Homo sapiens: one gene and its partners. The protein of the gene in region 1 purifies or fractionates together with the protein of each later gene. This does not show direct contact. Each region holds a gene or a part of one and is shown on either strand. Other genes may lie near its edges. The genes, in order: CSRP3, SMPDL3B and XPNPEP1.

Region 1 (3,650 bases):
CTGCCCTGAGTTGTGCACTCCAAGACAGTCCCGATCTCACAGATGACAAAATTGGGTTCAGTGGTTCCCAGCTGGAAAAGGGTGGAAGCTAGCATTAGAACGAGATATATAGTCTCAGACCTGCTAAGGACTGCATCCCTGAGTCTTCCCAAATGACATCAGGGAAGTGTGTGTGTGTGTGTGTGTGTGTGTGTGTGTGTGTGTTTGTGGGCGCGCGCGTTGGCAGGGGGTGGGTTAAGGCAGGAGAGAAACTTACTTTTTTCTTAATCATAAAAGAATCAGGATTGAGCACTTTCTGTACTTACCACAGCCTTTGAAGGACACTGTGATATTCAAGCAGACAATTGCCATTGAGGCTAATTTTGGTCAAATTCTGGAAGCAGAGGAGGTGGGGAAGGGGGTAGACCTGCCTTATTAACTCCTTAGGCTTCTATTGGCTCAAGCCCCCTGGTTACTGTATATTACCTAATGTAAAGTATCCTCCAGTATAAGGCAATCAAGCCCTCATTTTTCCAAAGAGAGGATTTATAGAAAGATTTATTTTGCAAATTTAAAAGGAAACTTTTAAAGATATAAATAAAAATGTCAAATATCTACTTATAATTTTAATTTAGTAATATAAATCAACAATATATTGATTTGGAAAGGTTACTTTTTTCTAATCCCACATAAATTTGGGGAATAATTATCTCCAATTCTGTCTTTGCATCTTCAACATCGGCATCTCCCTCACCACCAGAATCATTTCTGGGGGCAGCTGGCCCAGCTTTTCTGAGCAGCTCACTTTCACTTCTATCTGTACGTTTAAAGAGGCAGCCCTGTTTTATACCTGAGTAGGAGGTTGTCACCTAGAAATTGCATCTCAACAAGAAGGACCTATTAGCATAGCATTAGGGCAGATTTTTTAAAAGATATAGAATTTCCACCATGTAATGACTTGCTACATTGCTTTGCAACAATGATTCTTAAAGGTTGTTTATAGTGATGCTCAGTGCTTATAATAGGGAGATAATATCCCCAGGAATAATAATATGTGTGCATTAAATGTATTTGCCTTTTAAAAAAACATTTCCATCAAATGATCCCTATAAGCAATCCAGCATTGAATGAGGTTATTTCAGGCTAATATGCCTTCTTCAAATGATATTATCTTTTTTAAAAGATAAAGTAATTGAATATGGGAGTGGAGGAAGAAGATAAGGTTGTAGATGAGGTAGGATTAGCCAGGGGCTGATGAGTGTGGGGCAAGGGAGTTTATTCTGGGACTTTATTTGACTATTCTGTCAACATTGTATGTGTTAAAAAATATCTGTACCAAAAAAAAGTTTAAATCAGTAAATAAAATAATTGGAAGAATGTCTTACAGCAGGAGAGACTTTATAAGGCTTTAAACACAAGGCATATCTTTTTTATGAAGATGAATTTGGGGGGAGAATGCCTTATATTGAGACATAGAAGGTGTGTACACTTGTCTCTACCCTTCTTGTTACTGTCAGTTACCAACCTCCACAACAACTGCTTGCATATTTGCTGATGGTCTAGACTCTGAGTTCCTTGAGGGCAAGCCTGTTTTGTCTTAATATTCCGAGAATTTAGCACAAGGCCTGGGCCAGAATTAGTCCTCTGTAAACATTTATTGAGTACATGAATGAATGAATGAATGAATGTGTCAATGTAAATCAGTGAGTTGTTCACAATTATACAATAGTAAGTTGCAGAGCCACGGCTTACCTCAGCTCTTTTGACTCCTAGTCCAGTGCTCATTCCCATCACTCCAAGACTGCCTATACCCTAAGGTGCCCTGGCCAATTCTGTAGCCACTCCCTGGCTTCTGATGAGCTTTTGTGAACAGACAAAGGAGAACTGTGCTGTCCAGTGCTGTGGCCACAGCCACATGCTGTGCTGTAAGCACAAAATGCACATCAGATTTCAAACACTCAGTACAAACGCAAAAATCATGTAAAATATCCCACTGATCATTTGTATATTGAAGTATACATTGAAATTATAATGTTTTGGATATATTGAGTTAAATAAAATGTTTTAAGATTAATTTCATCTGTTTATTTGTACCATTTTTAAACTATGGTTACTAGAACATTTAAATTTACATATGTTGCTGCATTATATTTATTTCTTTTGGACAGCAAACTTACTTTCTAGATTTCATGATTAGTCTAGAGATTTAATTGTGAAGATTTATCTAGAAGTCAGGGGAACACTGGCCTGGGCACAATGTAAGGTAGACCCTGCGTCTCTGAACGCCTTTTCCAGCAGCTACAGAGTTGCCTGCGGACAGACAGGTGATTATCTTGTGGTAATAATATAGAAAAGTGTGCTCCTCTCTGGGGCTCTTCTACCCATCGTTCCTGAAATGTATGCTGCTCAAATCCTCATCCCATCAAAGGGTTCTCAGGAAATATCAAAGGGTTAAAAGGGATGTACCAAAAAATGCTCAAATCTCTTCTACTATAACTCCTTTGAACAGGGCATCTTCCTCCTACCTGGGAAAGACAAGACACCCTCTACTAAGGAAAGCTTCCCTACAATTTCCTGTTCCCACGCAGTTACCAAAGTTGATCAAAGGAGAATACAGGCCTAGAAGGCTGGATTTCCATATCAAGACCCCCCAGTTTTCTCCTTGTAACAACCTGTGCAGTAGGTATAATCATCTTTGTTTTATAAGTGGAGAAATTGAGGTTCACCATGGTGAAATGACCTGCCCAAAATCTCAGTGAGTACATGGCAGAGCCCAGACTCAAACCCGAATCCCTTTTACTCTAATTCTAGAATTCTTTCTAATATTCCTAATCCTGTTTTTTAAAGAATGCTAGCTCTCTTTGGACAAAAGCCCCAACAGATGGAGTCCAGCCCTTGGAGTTCTTTTCAATTGCATGGATGCCTTGCAGCTACCGGGCTGAAGCATGGGGGTGCTGGCATGGCTGTGGGGACTAGTCGGGGAGGGGGCTCGCCAAATATCCAGCAGAGCTAGCCCTTAAGCCAGACCTCCTGGACAGAAGCAGAGAAGATAAGTGGCCATTTTAAAACCAAGGCCAATTTTCTCCCAAACAGGACTAGCTGCCAGGAAACAGTATAGAATGCAGTCATGTCAAAGAGCACTGGACATGGAGTCTAAAGGTAGAGGTTCATGTATAAGACTCTATCGCAGATGCACATGACCCGGGCTTAGATGTGAGAAATGACTTATCGAAAGTCACGTGAGTCAGGCAGGACCAGACTCACAAGGTCTCAAGGTTCTCAAGGTTCTCAAGGTTCAAGCCACAAGGTCTCAAGGTTCTCCCTATTTTTGACATGTGTGAGTCAGTGTCTGGCGGGTAATGGTCAGGATTTCTTTCATGCAGTTACTGGTGCCCAGGCCCTGAAATGCTTCCCTCTCTGACTCTTACATACAGAGTTGGCATGTGTTGCCCCCCTGCCTGACATAGGTTCTCTCTCAGACAAGACCAGTCACAGCTGGCTTCAGTCACAGCTGACCAGAAGGGGCAACATAGACAGCCAAATCCATCCTGGCTTCAGATAAGTGCTGGCTTCCTTTCTCTGCCAAGTCACATGTTGTCAATGTCGCCATGGGGTCAAAGTTTTCCCTACAGAGAGCAGTGACAGGCTAGCTTGTTCTGACGTTGAGCTAC
Region 2 (3,654 bases), on another chromosome or scaffold:
TACCTGGGCAGCAGAGGCCCCAGGATTTTGACTGTCCGGACGTCTCCCCATCCCTACACTCCACCTGCCACCATTCTCCTCCCCTTGCCAAGCATTTCTAAGGTGGACCCAAGAATTTTGATTCATGGCATGAAGGGCACAGTGGTCCCAGGGCAGAATCAGTATCTGCCCTGGAAAAGATCTGAACCCTACACTTGAAGCCAGCTTCAAACTCCTTTGAACTCTTCTGGAAAGGAACAGAATTCAGAGATGGCTTCTCAACCCTGAGCTCCCTCGGGGTTTGCAGATGGGACTGGAACTCCAGAGCTTTCCTCTCTAAATAATAATATTCATTACAACCTAGCAGCTACTCTTACTGTACTATATTATGTATATAATTTTCCTCCTTGATGGATACCTAACAAACACTCTGTGAGTAAGAACTGTATTATCCCAACATTACAGATGAGTTAATAGAGGCTCAGAGAGGTTAAACAGCCAATCAAGGGACCCACAGCAGGAAAATGGCAAAGCCTAGTTCTCAGCTCTGTCCCATCTGACTCCACTCTAGCCTGGCCATTCCCCCTCAAGGGGACATCTGAGGCCCAGGTCCATAGGTTTTCCTCTCACTGCAGAGCTGTCCCTTCCTTTTCTTCTGCTGCTTCCTGAGTTGCCTGCCCCAAATTGGCTTGGTGGTGTTTTGTAGTGATGACACGCCTCATGTGCCCGATGAGAAACTGGGAGAGGCAGCTGTACTGGAAATTGTGGAACGCCTGACCAAGCTCATCAGAGAGGTCTTTCCAGGTAAGACTGTGCCATCAGTCCCTCCACAGTGTTCTCGGAACTCTAGGCACTGCCTGGCACAGTGGGACAACAGCAGCAGCGAGTGTCCTGGCTGACCTTCATCCATGGACAGCGATGGCTGTTGGCCAGGTCTTCATGGTGACCATTTCTCACCTTCCTAACAAGCCCGAAGGCAACATGCAAGCCCATGGGCCGGTGGATACACACAGAATCCTATCAAAGGAAATGCCCAGCCTTTCACTGACTTCTGCTCCTGCCTATCTCCAGACTCATGAGCCCTTCTCCAGGTGTCTAGAGTTGCACACAGGTGTCGTCCCTGGGTGAGTCTCACACACAGCCCTTGTGTCCTGCTCTGGAGTTGGCATCCATCACCCTCAAACTGTCCTGGCTGCCAGGGCCTCTGGGAAATGCTAATTTCCAGCCAAGGTGCTGTTTCTTGTTGCTTCCAAGGACTTCAGAGTCTGGCAGAGCAGGCAGGGACTGGGGGTGAGTGAGGCAGCAGCCCTACGGGACACTATAGGGTGAATAGGGTCTGCGTGCCCCATCTGATGGCCCTTGCAAATGTTTTAAAGCAGTCTGCACCGAAAACAACATCCTGGAGGCTAAATCTGGCTGCCAGGCTGCCAACTGGGCGCCTGAGAAAGCAGCCCATAGCCCCCACCCCCACCTTTTTTGGGTTCCAGTACCTCTGCCCCCTCTAAAGATCTTCATCATGGGTCCCAGGACACAGATATGGAGTAATAATAAAAATAAATAATGGCACTAGCAGCAGTTACTCTAGATCAAGTGTAAAGGGTCAGGCTGGCTCTAAGAATATTCAAGCCTTAGCTCCTTCACTGTCACCATAAGCCTTGGGGGAGGTGCTGTGACCTCAATTTTACTGATGAGGGAGGTGAGCCTTAGGGTTAAATAAACTAGTGAAGGTCACATTTACTTAAGAGGCCCAAATCCTGGTGTGAGCACTGCCCTTACTGTCTGTTCCCGCTGCTTCCTTTCCTCAACAAAGTCAATCTAGGCAAAGAGATGCCTGGATGCTTCCAGGTTATCTAACCCAGCCAACCCAAGTCAGGCTGCTTGGTTTCCTTTGTCTTCCAGCAGGGGTCAAACCAGGACATTCCCCTGACCCCAACAGCAGGCACCATTATTCCCAATGTATAGAAAAGGAACCTGTGGCTCCGAGCTAGTCGGTTCCGAGGGAGGGACTCAAACTCAGATCCAACTGGGAGTACCTCTCCTTTGCTTCACATGGGGCTTCTGGAACACAAGTCAAATAATGAGTAAGAAAATGCTTCACTGACTGTTTTGTTTTTTGAGAGAAGGTCTTGCTGTCACCCAGGCTGGAGTACAGTGGCACAATCAAGGGTCACTGCTGCCTTCATCTCCCAGGCTCAAGCAATCCTTCCATCTCACTCTCCTAAGTAGTTGGGATTACAGGCACACGCCACCACGCCCTACTAATTATTTTTATTATTTTTTTATTTTTTTAAGGCTGAGTCTTGCTCCGTCGCCCAAGCTAAAGTGCAGTGGTGCGATCTTGGCTCACTGCAACCTCCACCCCCATGGGTTCAAGTGATTCTCTTGCCTCAGCCTCCTGAGTAGCTGGACTCTAGGCATCCACCACCATAGCCAGCTAATTTTAGTATTTTTGGTAGAGATGGCATTTCACTATGTTGGCCAGGCTGGTCTCAAAGTCCTGACCTCAAGTGATCCGCACGCCTTGGCCTCCCAAAGTGCTGGGATTACAGGCGTGAGCCACTGCGCCTGGCCTGTTTTCAATTTTTGTAGAGATGGGGTTCTTGCTGTGTTGCCTAGGCTGGTCTTGAACTCCTGGGCTCAAGTAATTCTCTCTCTTAGCCTCCCAAAGTGTAGGGATTACAGGCATGAGCCACCATGCCTGGCCTATTGACTATGATTTAACACAAATGTAAATTATAAGATTTTGTAGTTTCTACTACACTTGCATGTTTATTGAATTTCCTAATATCCAAGATGCCATTGACTGAAAGATGCATCATTATGTATAACTAAGAAAAAACAGCTACCAATTATAATCTGACACAGCGCTTTCTCATGGCCACACCTCACTTTTAGAGATGGTACTATGAGAACAAATTGGAAGAGATGAAATGAAGGTATTATCTAGCTGAGAATTCTAAAAACACAAGTCAAGCAGAACACTCCCATCTTATAGATAACTAAACTGAAGTACAGAGAGGTCGAGTAAGTGGCCTAAGAAGAGGAAGGGACTGAAACTCGAGATTCAGGGTTCCACATCATGTGTTCTTCCTGCTGTGTTCAACTTTACCCACCAGAGTCAGCTGTGAACACTGGTCCTCACCTCATCAGCACAGCCAAGTGGTTGACAACACAGGCACGCAAGGCAAACAAATCCAGGGCCCTGGGCCAGGTGCAGTGATCATATGCCTGTAAACCCAGCACTTTGAGAAGCTAAGGCTGGAGGATCGCTTGAGGTCAGGAGTTTGAGACTGGCCTGGGCAACATAGCAAGACCCTGCTTCTACAAAAAATAAAAAAAAATTAGCTGTGTGTGGTGCTGTGTATCTATACTCTTAGCTACTTGGGAGGCTGAGACAGGAGGATCACTTGACCCCAGGAATTTGAGGTTACAATGAGCTATGATCGTGCCACTGCACTGCAGCCTGGGAGGCAAAGGAAGACCCTGTCATGCAGGGCCCAATTCTAGCTCTGGTATGGTTTAGCTGGGTAATCTCATAAAGACTCAGTCTGCTCCCTGTGAAAAAGGAAAATAATGGTACCTGTCCACAGGGTTGTTATGAGGATTAAATAAGGTAATTCATTCACTCATTTAGTCAATCAACAAATAGTTATTGAGCATCCACTATGGGTGAGA
Region 3 (3,654 bases), on another chromosome or scaffold:
TATTGCAGGATTACTGATAACAGCAAAAAATTAAAAACAACCCAAACATTTAAAAATAGGAGGACTGGGTTAGTAAATCAGAAGAGCCACTAGATGCAGTTTTCATTTGGATCCTTTTTTAAGGCCTCAATGTACATGGAAAATGTTCACACTATGATTCTAAGAGAATAAAATAAAACACAAAATCATATCTAAGCCAGGTGTGATGGCTCACACCTATAATCCTAGCACTTTGGGAGGCCAAGATAGGTGGATCGCTTGAGCCCAGGAGTTTCAGATCAGCCTGGGCAACATGGCAAAACCTTATCTCTACAAAAAAATCAGAAAAAATCAGGTGGGCTGTAGTCCCAACTAATCGGGAGGCTGAGGTGGGAGGATCACCTGAGCTTGGGGAGGCTGAGGCTGCAGTGAGCTGTGATCACACCACTACTCTCCAGCCTGTGCAACAGATGAGACCCCATCTCAAAATAAGAAAAAAAAAAAGAAAAAAAATTTATCTGCACACTAAGAGACATGTAAAAATAATTTATATTTTTAAAAATAATTTACGGCCAGGCACGGTGGCTCACGCCTGTAATCCCAGCACTTTGGGAGGCCGAGGCGGGCGGATCACAAGGTCAGGAGATCGAGACCATCCTGGCTAACACAGTGAAACCCCGTCTCTACTAAAAATACAAAAAATTAGCCAAGCATGGTGGCGGGCGCCTGTAGTCCCAGCTAGTCGGGAGGCTGAGGCAGGAGAATGGCGTGAACCCAGGAGACGGAGCTTGCAGTGAGCCGAGATCGCTCCACTGCACTCCAGCCTGGGCGATGGAGCAAGGCTCTGTCTCAAAAATAAAAAAAAATAATAAAAATGTAATAATAATAATTTACATAAAGTCCAGGCATGGTGGCTCATGCCTGTAATCCCAGCACTTTGGGAGGCCGAGGTGGGTGGATCACAAGGTCAGGAGTTCAAGACCAGCCTGGCCAAGATGGTGAAACCCCATCTCTACTACAACTACGAAAATTAGCCAGGCGCAGTGGCAGGCGCCTATAATCCCAGCTACTTGGGAGGCTAAGGCAGGAGAATCTCTTGAACCTGGGCAGCAGAGGTTGCAGTGAGCCGAGATCACACCACTGCACTCCAGCCTGGGTGACAGAGTGAGACTCCGTCTCAAAAAATAAAATAAAATAAAATAATAATAATAATTTACATAGATGAACAATCACCAGAAGGAAACATGAGGGAAAAAGTTACACTAGTGGGAATAAAGACAATATTTTCTTTTCCCAATTAAAGAGTTGTTTATACAATACTTAAAGGGAACATGATATTGTTTAATAACACCACAGAGAAACCACCCTCTTGTCAACTAGAGCAAGAAATTAATGGCCAAGAGTCAATTTAATATAAAAAGGCTCAAGGCTTAAACTGAAGTTCAAAATGTACACAAAGATCTTTTTCTCCTAATACAATCAGCTTGCCTATAATAATATTATAAGACTCATTTTTCCTTATAATGAAATTCCACTTAGTTATGATTCCCTAACCCAAAAAGCATCCACTCTATTATGGAACTTTTCTTCATTCTTGTTACTATTTTCATAATTAAGGAATTTTGAAATCTACACACACCAAATTTCCAGAGAGAATTATTAAAATAGAGCCCAAAAATTTGATGAAGATCTCAGATCTCATGGTCAGCAGAGCATGGGAGATGCTAGAGTTAGAATCACATATAGGTAGGTCTGAATAATGTATATCCACATATTAAACAAAGACTAAGAACCAACCTCTTTCTCCAGCCAGTTAAAGAGTTCACAGAGAGCAACAGCATCTTTAATCTGTGCAAACAATGGAGACATTTTTTAAGTTATCACTGAAAATCACGTGACCAGATTCAGAGCCTAGCCCTAATGCAATACTGAGAAGGCTGTACCTGCAGGGCCACACATCATCAGCAACCAGAGCTTTACATGTGGACATTTCTGGGAAGCTGGTGTGTGCAGCAACTCCCATTATCAGGGAAAGGCTCCTCTGCTATTCAGTAGTTCAGGTACAATCAGGAAGGGCCCCACCTCAGAGCACAGGGAGCTCCTCCAAAAGGTTAACTTAAAGGTTAAGAACCCTACAGGGGCCAGGAAAAAACAGGCCACTATCAAAAGCCACCTCTGGGCCCAAAATCTTTCTTCATCAGCATCACGTCATCACCATCATCTACACTGTGAACATCAATATCTCCTTTTGTATTGTGTATTATACTTTGTAAAGATCTAATCCATCAAGTATTTTATTTCATTCCCTCAATAACTCCTCCTGGAAGGCCAGGAGGCTGAGGCTCAGAGAGATTCTAACCTTGTGCCAGGCTCAATGCCACAGAGGAGGTGAAGGAGCCGGGCCTTCTGACCACCTCACATCCCATCTTCTGCACCAGCTCCTCTACTCACGTGAGCCCGCCTCATGCCTTCTGACTCAGCTGAATTCTTCACAGCTTTGGCGATGCAGATGGGGGTGTAAGGCATACAGCAGCGGTGGTCCTAGAGGCAAAGGGCAGTAGGGTGGGAAATCAAACCGGCTCCACCCACCCAAGACCAAGGCAACAACCTTTTTGCTCAGCAAAACTTACTTTAGACAAATCATTTGAAGAGCTCCCACTGGCGACCCATATAGCTATCCCCTGGGGCCCCAACGACCTGTCCCTTTTGATTGATGACCCTGAGCTTAAGCTCAACCAAAAAGAGTAAGTACATCAAACAAGGTGTCTCTCTTCCATCCCTCACTCCCTTAGCTCTTTGAGACTGCTGGCTGCCTGCCGTCAGCAAGACATTGCTTTCCAAGCCACTGTGGTTGTGGTTAGAGTTCACTAACACTGAAAGCTTGACCGAAATCACCCTTCTCTTGCTGTACAAAGGGGGCTTTTTCTCCCTGTCTAGCCATGCACATGACCTGATGAGTGAGGTCTCCTGCTCCCTCCCTTCCCGCCCAGTGGTCCTATCTCAGCTACTGATAATAATCTGATCTTGAAGGGCTGGAGAAGACCCTTTCCAATTTGAGAACAAGTTAGAATCCAGCAGAGGGGCCTCAGCACACCTGGCACTTGCACAAAGCTTCTAAAATTGCTTTTGTGATCTTATCTCCTTTTCTCTTTCTCTCCAGAGAGAGAGGAGAGAGAGAGAGGAGGAGTCACACTGTGTGTGATGATGGCAGGGGTACAATGGCAAGCCAGATCTAGAGAGCCAGGCCTGGATTCTTCCCAGGATGCCCCACTGCTCAGTGGAGAAGAAAGGACATCACTGGGCTTGCCAAAGGCCACTTGGCAGCCAGAGGCCCAGGGGAGGACAGTAGAAAAGCCTACCTCTAAAGAGGCCTGGATTCCAGTCCCATCCCAGACCCTAATGAAAATGAGGCAACAAGTGTCAGCTGCTTAGCACTGCCCAGCAAGGGCTCAGTAAAGGGCAAGGCTATCACTATCACTTGAATTTGACAAATCCCCAAATCCCCAACTCCCCAATCCTCTCTGAGCCTCAAGTGTCCTTAGCTATAAAATGTGGTGCGGCAGAAGGAGGGGGTAGAGAAGCATTTCCCAAGCTTCAAGCATTCTTATACCACCTGCACAGCTTTTACCCTAGCTTCTTAACTGCTGTACCCTTATTCACTTAGTACTTTACTTT

The links.
Region 2: the proteins of CSRP3 (region 1) and SMPDL3B purify together in Homo sapiens (affinity purification with mass spectrometry; one large-scale study listed by BioGRID and IntAct). This does not show direct contact.
Region 3: the proteins of CSRP3 (region 1) and XPNPEP1 purify together in Homo sapiens (affinity purification with mass spectrometry; one large-scale study listed by BioGRID and IntAct). This does not show direct contact.

The regions. Positions count from the first base shown.
Region 1 is NC_000011.10:19,188,448-19,192,097, forward strand, and holds part of CSRP3 (cysteine and glycine-rich protein 3), read right to left. Parts: intron 1-3,650. UniProt on the Homo sapiens protein: Positive regulator of myogenesis. Acts as a cofactor for myogenic bHLH transcription factors such as MYOD1, and probably MYOG and MYF6.
Region 2 is NC_000001.11:27,948,380-27,952,033, forward strand, and holds part of SMPDL3B (acid sphingomyelinase-like phosphodiesterase 3b isoform 1 precursor), read left to right. Parts: intron 1-614; exon of another isoform or gene 615-685; coding exon 686-783; intron 784-3,654. UniProt on the Homo sapiens protein: Lipid-modulating phosphodiesterase. Active on the surface of macrophages and dendritic cells and strongly influences macrophage lipid composition and membrane fluidity. Acts as a negative regulator of Toll-like receptor signaling.
Region 3 is NC_000010.11:109,878,412-109,882,065, forward strand, and holds part of XPNPEP1 (xaa-Pro aminopeptidase 1), read right to left. Parts: intron 2,521-3,654; coding exon 2,431-2,520; intron 1,828-2,430; coding exon 1,777-1,827; intron 1-1,776. UniProt on the Homo sapiens protein: Metalloaminopeptidase that catalyzes the removal of a penultimate prolyl residue from the N-termini of peptides, such as Arg-Pro-Pro. Contributes to the degradation of bradykinin.